Linked DNA regions of Homo sapiens. The protein of the gene in region 1 interacts with the protein of each later gene in a pairwise test. Each region holds a gene or a part of one and is shown on either strand. Other genes may lie near its edges. The genes, in order: LIMS2, RCHY1 and SPRED1.

Evidence for each region.
Region 2: the proteins of LIMS2 (region 1) and RCHY1 interact in binary tests that used the Homo sapiens proteins (3 or more experiments, as listed by UniProt).
Region 3: the proteins of LIMS2 (region 1) and SPRED1 interact in binary tests that used the Homo sapiens proteins (3 or more experiments, as listed by UniProt).

Annotation. Positions count from the first base shown.
Region 1 is NC_000002.12:127,654,913-127,658,665, forward strand, and holds part of LIMS2 (LIM and senescent cell antigen-like-containing domain protein 2), read right to left. Parts: intron 3,305-3,753; exon of another isoform or gene 3,118-3,304; coding exon of another isoform or gene 3,050-3,117; intron 2,651-3,049; coding exon 2,491-2,650; intron 1-2,490. UniProt on the Homo sapiens protein: Adapter protein in a cytoplasmic complex linking beta-integrins to the actin cytoskeleton, bridges the complex to cell surface receptor tyrosine kinases and growth factor receptors. Plays a role in modulating cell spreading and migration.
Region 2 is NC_000004.12:75,479,679-75,483,431, reverse strand, and holds part of RCHY1 (RING finger and CHY zinc finger domain-containing protein 1), read left to right. Parts: intron 1-765; coding exon 766-894; 3' UTR 895-3,753. UniProt on the Homo sapiens protein: E3 ubiquitin-protein ligase that mediates ubiquitination of target proteins, including p53/TP53, TP73, HDAC1 and CDKN1B. Mediates ubiquitination and degradation of p53/TP53; preferentially acts on tetrameric p53/TP53.
Region 3 is NC_000015.10:38,255,792-38,259,544, reverse strand, and holds part of SPRED1 (sprouty-related, EVH1 domain-containing protein 1), read right to left. Parts: intron 1-3,753. UniProt on the Homo sapiens protein: Tyrosine kinase substrate that inhibits growth-factor-mediated activation of MAP kinase. Negatively regulates hematopoiesis of bone marrow.

The DNA.
Region 1 (3,753 bases):
GAGAGAGGACAAGCAAACCACCTATCATCCCCATGAGCAGCCCAGGCCCTTGTTGGGTCAGGACCTGACAGCAGGGGATGAGGCACTGAGGCAGGGGCATGCCGGGCTGAGGCTGGAGCAGTGGGTCCCAGGCCTGGCCAGAGAGGACACTGGCCCTTTTGGGATGGTGGGGTGCAAAGGGAGGTGCCCCCGTGGAAGCTGGAGAGGTCCGTGAGGCCACCTGTCAAAGGGCCACTGGTGTCTACTGAGGATCTGGACCCTGTTGGTCCGGAGAACAGGCTGGGGGCGAGGCGGTTTTAAGCCAGGAGGGATGAGATCCAGTCTGAAGTGTAGTGTCACTTGGTCCTATTTCGTATACCTTCTCTGTGGGAGTATCCAGCTCTCTCAGAGGCCATGAAGACCCGGGTATAGGAGACAGAAGGAAGGGAACGCAGGAAGGGCCTGGGCACGGGGAAGTGGGAAGAGCTCAGGGCTGCGGCCAGCAGGAGCCAGTGTGCACACCCTCCAGGCGGCAGCTGCCAGCGAGGGCCCCTGTGCTGGCCACAAGCGGGGCCAAAGCCTGCCTCTGCTTTCCTCTAACAATTGTATTTTCTGTTTTTTAATTGGTTTTTCCCTGTTCTCTAAAATGAGTGTCTTATTAGACTAAACTGGATATAGCCCTACCCAGTGACCTGTAGAGTCAGGAAGGGCTTAAACTCTTTCAGCAATGAAAATCTTCTGGGCACCTGCTGTGTGTGAGAGAGAGAGGCTTTGTTCTGGGCATATGGCCACCCCTCCTAGAGCTTTGCCCACCCCTCCCGCTGCCTCTACACTTAGACAGCATTCCTCAGGAGGCTGAAGACACTGTGAGGAACAGCGGCTCTTGCTCTGCCAGGCGGACCACAGGCCCCACATCCATCCACCAGCCAGTCCCATCAGCTCTACCTTGAAACAGAGCCAGCATCTGACCCCTGGCCACCACCGCCACCACAAGCACAAGTGATGTTCTGGTAAATGCTCAACAGCCAGCTCTCTGGGGCGCAGAGGCAGGCCCTGCTGTGGGGCGTTTGCCAGTGTCCATGGTGTGAATATTCCCGTCATGGCCAACTCCTGGCTGCCAACATGACATCGATGTGGACTTGAGGGGAGATGTGCAGTGGCCACACCAGCACAATGGACAGAAATAACCCCATCAGCATAGACGATAGTAAAGTGGAACAAAATAATTAGCAAGTGGTATGCTTTGAGTATTTGTTACCTTTGTTTTTAATAAAATTGTATCCCATTGTACGCTGATATAATTTAATTTTTAAACAATAACTCTGTTGCCCAACCAGCTCCCAAGATTGTTGATGATTTAACGACTGCTCCTGTGAGCTGGTGGGGGCCCCTTCACTTTCATCTGGGTGATTGCACTAATTCAGCTCCTGGTCCCCCCAGCCTCCTGGCCCAGCCTCTGTTCCTGCCCCGCCTTACATCCTCTCCTCAGCACAGCGGCCACAAGCCTCCTTTTTTTTTTCTTTCTTTTTTTTTTTTTTTTTAGATGGAGTCTTGCTCTGTCCCACAGGCTGGAGTGCAATGGCGCGATCTCGGCTCACTGCAACCTCTGCCTCCCAGGTTCAAGTGATTCTCCTGCCTCAGCCTCCCGAGTAGCTGGGATTACAGGCACCTGCCACCATGCCAGGCTCATTTTTTGTATTTTTAGTACAGACAGGGTTTCACCATGTTGGCCAGGCTGGTCTTGAACTCCTGACCTCAGGTGATCCATCTGCCTCCGCCTCCCAAAGTGCTGGGATTACAGGCGTGAGCCGCCGCGCCCGGCCAGGTCACCTTTTCAAATGTCAGCAGATAGTGTGACTCCTCTGCTCCACACCCCGAGGTGGCTCCTGCCTCTTGCAGAGGGGAAGCCTATGGCTCCGTAGAGGCCCGTGGGGCCAAGCGAGATCCACCTCCCTTTCCTCAGCTCCTGGCCTTCTCCCTCTCATGCCCTCGGCTTCCATCACACCAGTCTTCCTACTGCTCTCCATACACCCCATGTTCTCCCACCACAGGGTATGTGCATATGCGGTGCCCTCTGCCCAGTATGTCTCCCTCCCCTCAGGTGTGCCCAAACCTCACCTTCCCTGAGCACCACCGCACCCCACCCCGGGAACCCTGACCCCCAGGGCATCAGCACCAGCTGGTGGGCCATGCGGTTGCTGTGCTCACTGTCTAGTCCCCAGGGAGGGCAAGCACCACCAGGGCAGGCTCTTCCTGCCCCCAGGGCCTGCCCAGCATCTGCCCAGAGGAGGCTGGTGAAAGGTGGCTCTCTGTTAGCACCCAGGGCACCTGGGGTGCTGTTCACATCTCACAGGTGAAGGATGGGCCCGTGCAGGAGCTCAAGCCTGGTTCTGGGCTGGCTCCAGACCTGGCCCTGTCACCAGTCGGGACCACTGCATGGAGCCCGGCCCACCCGCTCATAGAGGGCAGACTCCGAGCTGGGTCTGAGAAAGCCCTCAGTAGTGTCCTCACCTCATAGAAGAGCCCCTCGGGGAAGGGCCGGAAGCACTGGGCACACACGAAGCAGTGCTCATGGTACAGCTCCCCATTGCTGTTGACAATGCGCTCGGCGGGGGAGAAGCGGGCCTGGCAGCGCTGGCACACGGCGTTGGCCAAGGCGTCCGACATATTGCTGGGGGCAGGAGACAGGAGGAGTGAGTCAGAGCTGGTCAGGGGTGCAGATGGGGCACACGCGGGGGCCTGCGCCCGACAGACACACCTCGTATTAAAAAGTGAAGACGCTCTGCAGGATCAGGAAAATCGCTCTAACCCAGGGTCCAGGCTGCTCAGTGCTTGTAGTGCCCACCCCTTGGGGTGTCAGGGGCCCAGTCAACTCCCACTTGGGCCCCTATTACCCCTTCTTCAGGGACCAGAGAGTCTCGCACACAGAACACCACCCAGCACAGGTGAGCGGCTCTGTATTCACACTCTCATTTAATCCCCAGGGCAATACTGCAGCTACTATTATTATGGCCTCTTCCAGAAAAGGGACCTAAGCCTCAAAGAGGTTGAGTAACTTGCCCAAGCTCACACAGCAGAGCGGGGTCCACACTTGAATCCAGACTGCTCAGTCTTCCATGGTTCCATCCTCTGCACCATGAGTTAGTTTCAAACTGACTGCCTCCAATAAACACATAACCACCCAAACACAGAGCAGGCAAGAGGGTAGCTGGGTGCGTGTGCAGAATGGCTCAAGCCTGTCATCCAGAGCACTGTGGGAGGCCAAGGTGGGCGGATCCCTTGAGCCCAGGAGTTCGAGACCAGCCTGGGCAATATGGCAAGAATCCATCTCTAATAAAAATACAAGAAAACAAAAAAATTAGCCAGGTGTGGTGGTGCAAGCCTGTAGTCTCAGCTACTCTGGAGGCTGAAGTGGGAGGATGGCTTGAGCCTGGGAGGCCGAGGCTGAGTGCCACTGCACTCAGGCCTGGGCAACAGAGCAAGACCCTGTCTCAAAATAAAAAATAAATAAAAAAGACAAGAGTATGAATCTTTGAGACGAGACGGGAGTGTGGTGAGGGGGAGCAAATCTCATCCATACTGGGCACTGCCTGTCCCCAGAGTCAGTGGTGGGTTTCCTTCTGGGAGGGGTGAAATGCGAACTACAGGGGAAAAGCCCACAGTGAGCCAGGCCCGCAATCAGTCCAGCCCCAGGGCCCTTCGGCACAGCCAGGAGGGGCCTTTTAGACTCAAAAACAGGGTCAGGATGTAGTCCTAAACACCCCAACTGCCTCT
Region 2 (3,753 bases), on another chromosome or scaffold:
AGGCAACCACTAATCCACTTTCTCCATTTAGATCATATTTTTTAAATAATTATTTTCCAAATTATAATTTAGAGCAAATTTGGAAATTTTCTGCTTATTATAGTGTGACTATTCAAAAACTAGTGCTTTTCTTGCATAGTAATGTATTGATTTTCAGGTTAACACCTTTGTTATTTTTCAGGTTCTTACTTAGCACTAGAAGAAATTAATTCTTAAACGGCATCTTATTGTTATTGTAGGGATGAGCGAAGAGCCTCTCTGTTTACTCAATTTTAGGAACACTCTTTTTGGAATTTAATTCATTCCTAAGGCAGAGAAGACAGGGAACAGTATACTAAACCTAAAAAATAAGCAAAAATATTATTTGTGTAAAAATTTTGGTTTTATTAATTGAGATACATTTCTGACTGAAAAATAATGAAATCATGTTGTTATTTTGAATTATAAGTATCAGGTATTCATCTGATTATGCCTAGGTTAATTTTCTTGCTTGTACTATTTATACTATTTAATATTTGGAAACTATTTTAAAATAAGCTTTTTTTTTGCTCAAATCTGCCTTTTCATTTTCTGAATTCAGAGCCACCTTAATAGCTTTTTAGAGTTTTCAGTGAAAAAATAAGAAGAAATTTCTACTTTTGGAAATTTTTAGACTTATGTATGTATTTTCACATCTTTAATATGATTTTCAAGGGATTATGAGTAGACAATGCTACTTGTATTTATAAGGTTTAAAATACTTAATTTGAATTAATCTCTTTTCAGATTCTCTGCAATGACTGTAATGGACGATCCACTGTTCAGTTTCATATATTAGGCATGAAATGTAAGATTTGTGAATCCTATAATACTGCTCAAGCTGGAGGACGTAGAATTTCACTGGATCAGCAATGACGAGCCTACACAGTACTGGAGAACTTGGCATTTTCTGATATAGAAAAAGGCTTTCCTTGGTATCGTGTTATCATGTGTCGTCATCTATGCATTAGAGTTGATGTGTTTTGTACTAGTGTCACAGCATAAAATCATATTACAAGTACGTAAGGATTCAGGGTCTCTTGATAGACTTATCATAGCTCTATATTGAATGAAAGCCACTGTGCTTGTGTTTTGATTGGAAATTCCTTTAGTGTCAGTTTTTTGGAAGCCAATGATGTTTGCCACTGATACATTCATAGAAGTGTATTATATTTTCATGAAGCTTTGCTTTAAGTGACACTACGCGTGCAGTTCATTTCTAGTTCTTGATAGAACTGCACTTAATTTTCAGTAGTAGTCTTGACTTTTTAAGGGCTGTGTTATATTAAGTTCTCCCTTACTGTTAAAACCTAATTAAATATGCTTTAGAATTTTCTAAGACAGTCCTCTGGATCCTCTAAATGTGAATTTTGATGTAATAACTGCTAATAAAATTATATTGAAACTGTTTTATAGAAAGTTTTTTCCAAAGTTTTCTATGTTTGGCTCAATTAGGGCAGTATCATCAGTTCTATAATGTAAAAGAAATTTTCTTTCTTTTGAGGTATTCCATAAAAGTAGTTGGGAAAATTATTATGTAAAATAATAAGACTCTTCCAAAGCCTTAATAAAAACATCAACATTGAAAACAGTTTTTTTTAGGTTGCCCAAAATTATTTCTTCAAAGAGTCATTCATTCCTTCATTTAGCAAGTATTTATTGAGCAACTGCTATGTGGCAGATATGTTTCTAGATGCTGTAGAGACAACAGTGAACAATAAAGATAAAAGTCCTTGTCCTCACAGCAGTACATTCTATTGTTCATCATATTTGATCAATGTACTCATTTTTCTTTATGCAAGGAGTGGATGTCTTATTGTAAATGAATAGAATATTTCTTCCCTAAGCGTGTGAAAATAGGGGATGGATGAGTGGGAAGGGCATGGGATATTCCTGGCAAGATCTCTGATTTCATAATACTTTTTTGGGCTCATGTAGTGGAATTAAATATACCTCTTACTTCAGGAACAAAGTTAACAAATATGTTTGATGATCCAGCCGACTTTGACACTGTTATCTCCGTAATAGCTTTACCATTAGGCTAGGATGTAAAATGTACATTTATCAGTTGATAAGTACCTATTGAGCACCAGTTGTATTTCCAACTTTGAGCTATTTGAATCTTCTTTGAATAAGGAAGTTAGCCTTTTAACTAGAAAGCCTAAGAGTTCTGGCACATTTATTTCTTCTTTTGTTGAAATTTATTCACCTAGATAAAGGCAGCAGTTTGGGACTCAGATCTTTATTTTATCCCACCTTCTTGTCTTCTGTATTCCACTCTTCTTATGTTCTTTCCCTTCATCTGTTTCCTTGGCCTGGCCAGAGCAGCAGTGCTGATCTTCATTTGGGAAAGGATGTTCCTGGGTATTACCAATTAGTATACAGATAAGTAAAGACTAGTTTTCCAGATCTAATACTTTTTTTTGAAGTGGTTTTGCTCTGTCATTTAGGCTAGAGTGTAGTGAAGTGATCGTAGCTCACTGCAGCCTTGACTTCCTGGGCTGAACTGATCCTTCCACCTCAGCCTCCTGAGTAGCTGGGACTACAGGTGTGTGCCACCATGCCCAGCTAATTTTTAATTGTTTTGTAGAAACAAAGTCCAGGCTGGTCTTGAACTCCTGGGCTCAAGCATTTCTCCTACCTCGGCCTTCCAAGGGCTAGGATTACAGGCATGAGCCACTGTGCTTGGTCCAGATGTATTACTTTTTATGTTTGGTATTATTCTGCCAAACCAATCATGTTATTGTTTTTAATCATTGAATCATTGGATCTTTAAATAGGAGTGAGTATATAATAATAAGGCTCTTCTGTTTTCAACATCTGTGCTGGGTCATGCATTAGCATTAATTACTACAATGATTCTGTGGGGTAAGTGTTGTCCTCATAGACAAGAAAGCTGAGGTTTAGAGGTTAAAATGACACATTGGGGGTAAATAACAGACACTATATGTTGGAGTTGGGAATCAGATCCAAGTTTGACTCCAAACCCACTTTTACCACATTGCTTTTGATCTAAACTTCTATTTTGCTAAAATACCCCTCACAGCTAGTCATCCATATCATTGAAGCGCTCATGATTTGATAGATTAACCTTTCATTTTTTTAGGTGACTCTAGTTAGAAAGTCTTATTTCACAATCTGATTGTTTCTTTAACTTAGGATCCAAACATGTCCAAAATAATGCAGAGTACATATGCAATCACTCGTTTATGCTGTCTAGTCATGCACTTAAAGCAATTTTCAAATGTACTCAAAGTCTCTAGGCTTCGGTACCCAGGGTTGCTTCAAGTATTTGTTCATGACACGTCAACTCGATGATTAAAATCCTTCAACACTTCTCATTCACAATAAGAATAAAATCTACATCCCTTACCATTCAGTATGCAAAACTTAAAATACATAACTTTACCCTTAAATATTTTTTCTTTCTCTGACTTCATAAGTATAGGTTATACCTCTATAAGAAAGAAGGTAAAAAACTCTCAACAATCCCTTCTTTCAGAGAGAACTACTGTTAACATTTTAACAGACAACTTCATTCTTTTCCTATTCTTTTTTATAATGCTTACAGGAATGTTAAATACTTAGACAGATCTTAAGTACACTAGAATTATCTGTCCCTGAAATAAGTTAGGTTGCCCTGCCGCAGAATTTGTATCTATAGTTTATTTGGATTATTTTTGAAAAAAGTAAAATAACAATACCCTTACGAATTTTTTGGTGCATAGCATCTCA
Region 3 (3,753 bases), on another chromosome or scaffold:
GCTGTGCATGGTGGCTCATGCCAGTAATCCCAGCCCTTTGGGAGGCCAAGGCAAGAGGATCACTTGAGCCAAGGAATTTGAGACCAGCCTGGGCAGGACCCGATCACCACAAAAAATTTTAAAATTAGCCAGGTGTGGTGGCACACCTGTCGTCCTAGCTACTTAAGAGGCACAGGTGGGAGATCACTTGAACCCAGGAGTTCAAGGCTGCAGTGAGCTATGATCATACCACTGTACTGCCCTCCAGCCTGGACAACACTGCAAGACCCTGCCTCTTTAAAATAAATAAATACATAAAAAACAAAATTGAGTAGTACAAAATTTTGTGTCATCAAAGATACATGGCTATTAAGCCCAAAGTAAGTCTTAAAAGACTATTAATATACCAATTGTTTCCAAATTTTGTATCTTAATTGTTCAAAATGCATGCTTTTACCTAATCTTCCTACCACTTCTACTCTTAAGTCTTTTGTTTAAGTATGTCAAAAATAACAATATAATAAAATTAACAAAGTCTAAATCATACACCATCAACAAAGGAAGGGCACATATGATGCTTAGTCCAAATTCTTTAATTTATAAATCAGCAAACTGAGGCCTACAGAGCCCAGGATTAGAGAATAAATTAAAAATAGCTACAAAAGAAATCCATCTCCCAATTTCAAGTCCAGTGTTCTTTAGACTATACCATACTGCACAGAAGATGGTAAGAGTTAAATAAATGATGTACAAATGGCTTTTACATGAGCACTTAAATTCTATTTATAATATAGCATTTAAAAACATTCTAGTTACCGCAAAACAACCTAATAAGTTTTTAAATCAATTTTATTTTACCATAAAGCATTTAAAAAATAAGACTTCATTTTCTACCTTCAAAATTGGCAAAGAAAAATTCAGACAACTGTACAGACATTTCAAAGTTTAAGCACTCTCATATACTAAATACTTCTTTTCTAGAGGGCAATTTAACAGAAAGAATAAAATTAAATATTTTCCTCTCTTTTAACTCCATTCTTAGACTATCTCAAGGGAAAAGTAAGAGATCTGGATGGAGACAGAACTCAGGATGGTATGCAACATTGTTTAAAAATAACTAAAATATCCAACAATAGGAGACTGATTACAACTAATGTATATCATACACTGAACATAATGTAGCCACTAAAAATTATATTCTAGAATATTTAACGACTTAAGAAAATATTCACATTAAGCTACAATTGTACCCACTGTGCAATTCCATTCCACTGAGAAGAAACACATGTATATATATAAACTACATAATGCTTTCATAAAGCATTTATAACAGTGCTTGGCATACAGTAAAAATCTAATAAATGAATATGTTTCATCACCAACATCATAAGAAAGGTTTCCATGTAGACCAAAATTTTAGCAGCTGTTATTTAATGGCAGAATTGCAAATAAATTATTACTCACTTTAGAGATCATTTTGTACATTATCTGAAATAAACTACTACTCTTACATGGGGTGAAGCATTTTTTAAATTGGCATTTTTAATGTCGTTCCTGTTCCTACTGAAAGATGGAGAAGAAAAGCAGGCTTGTCTTTACCAATCATTTCCCCAAACTGGGTAAGACTAGTCAAGTTCAAGTTATACAACACCAGAGAAAAGGCTAAATTGTTACACTTTCCCCTTAGGCAGTTCTCAGTCACCAACAGCTGCAGTATAAAATCACGGAATCTGCTGCTGTTTACCCTTTCCTGATCAATTTCACTTCTTTATCCCTAGTCAGTTCCTCACCCTTGGCACTAATGTGGAACCATGGGGGAAAGGGAGAGCAATTTAAAGACTTAAAACTGATAAACAGCTGGAGATACATATTCCTAAATTTTGAGCTTCCTATGCCAAAAAAGACAGACACACAAATGTCTACCTTCTTGTGGATATAACACGGGTCTTCAGATACACCACATAACTCAGAGGCCAAGCACATCCAAACATCCCAACAGCACTTTAGGACAGTTTTTAAGCCTGATCTAAGTTATTTCTCAAACTTGCAGAAACAAAACATGTCAAAAATGAGGCCAATTTTTGTCTTTTCTTAAAAAAAAAGGTAAGCCTTCTTAAACGGGTAATAATTTACTTTTCCCATACTCTTTTTCGGCCTTTTTTTCTAATACAGCTAATGATCTCAAATGCATAAATTCAGAGAAAACAAAAAAATGAGGTAATGAGGCTCCATTAATTCAACCACATTTGTAGAGCATTTGCCATCAAGCACTGTGCTAGGCATACAAACAAAAGTAGGGAATTACAGAATAGCGGTCATAGAAATAAGTAAATAATCACAATATTATATGATTTTAAAACTAATATACATATGTACGAAGTACAGAGGCAACATAGAGGGACAGAGTGTTGAAAGAGGGGAAGAGAGAAGGTCTTTTGGGGAAAAATGACAAATTTACAAAAGTTTGTAAGGAGAGGAATTCTAGGTATGGTATCATAATGTGTTTAAAATATATAATTCAGGATCATAAAGTTTTAAGTGAGAAAGCAGAGGGAAATTAAGTTGAAGCAAGTATGCAGTCATTTAGCTGATTTTTACACAGGCCAACTGAATAATAAGCAAATTTTTATATTATGTATACACCACATCTATATAAACAAACATTAGATGGCTTAATATTACACAGCTTTCCAGTGCTTCCATTTATTTCTAGAATGTTTTCCAATTTTATATATATATATATGTGTGTGTGTGTACATACATATACATACGTAAAATGTATGGGGTGAACATATGTTTATTTACACTTATCAAAAATAACTCACCACTGGGTATATTTTTTATGAGGCACTAAATGATATAACCATAAAAATTTGCTTTCTATTTACGGAAAAACAGTTCAAACTCAGATTACAACATAGTACGTTTATCATACATGGTCTAATTCTAGTTAACCTAATTCCAAAATCTAATATAATCCCAACTTGCTATTAGAAAGCCTAATACTGACACAGGAAGTGTTTCTGGCTAACGTGAACCTAATAAGCCAAATGCTTATTATTTCAGCTACTTCACTTCTCCAAATGTTTTGGCCAAATTGACAAAAGGACATGCAGTGCTATATACACTCAATACCAAAGGACAAAGACTCTTAAGTATTATATAATATGCCTTTAAATGTTTAAAACTCTATTTAGAAGGCTAATTCAATAATGTAAAATATGGTACAGTTATATCTATCGGAAACATTTGACTGGAGTATTAAACAGTCTCTGTGCAAATTACCTACAAAACAAACATGTATGTGGCTATTTCCTCTACTATTTATAACACAAATTCTTTTGCTCTAGAGTATGTTTACTATTTTTGAAAAGTAAGATTTTTAAACATAAATGTGAAACAATCTAAGAAATGCTTTATTCTAATTTATTTCTTCCTTACTTGGTTTGGCATTAAAGCAAAGCCCTACACATAACAGATCCCCCACTAATTCTTGATTAAATATATTCTCACAGTCAGCCTAGGAGTTATCCATTTCTCTACATAAAACTTTAATTTCAAATAATAAGCATGTACTCGAGGATTTCAGAATGAGGCCCTACTGGATTTTACCACAATGGCTATCTAGAAAGGGTTAATGGTTTCCCAGGAAACTGGTGATTTTCACTTTTCTTGAAGGTTGAAATCAGGTGAAAAAGAAACTAAAGAATGTTAAAAATAGTCCCTACTGTAATTAAATCCCTATGAGCAATGGCTTTAAAAAAGAGAAAAGGG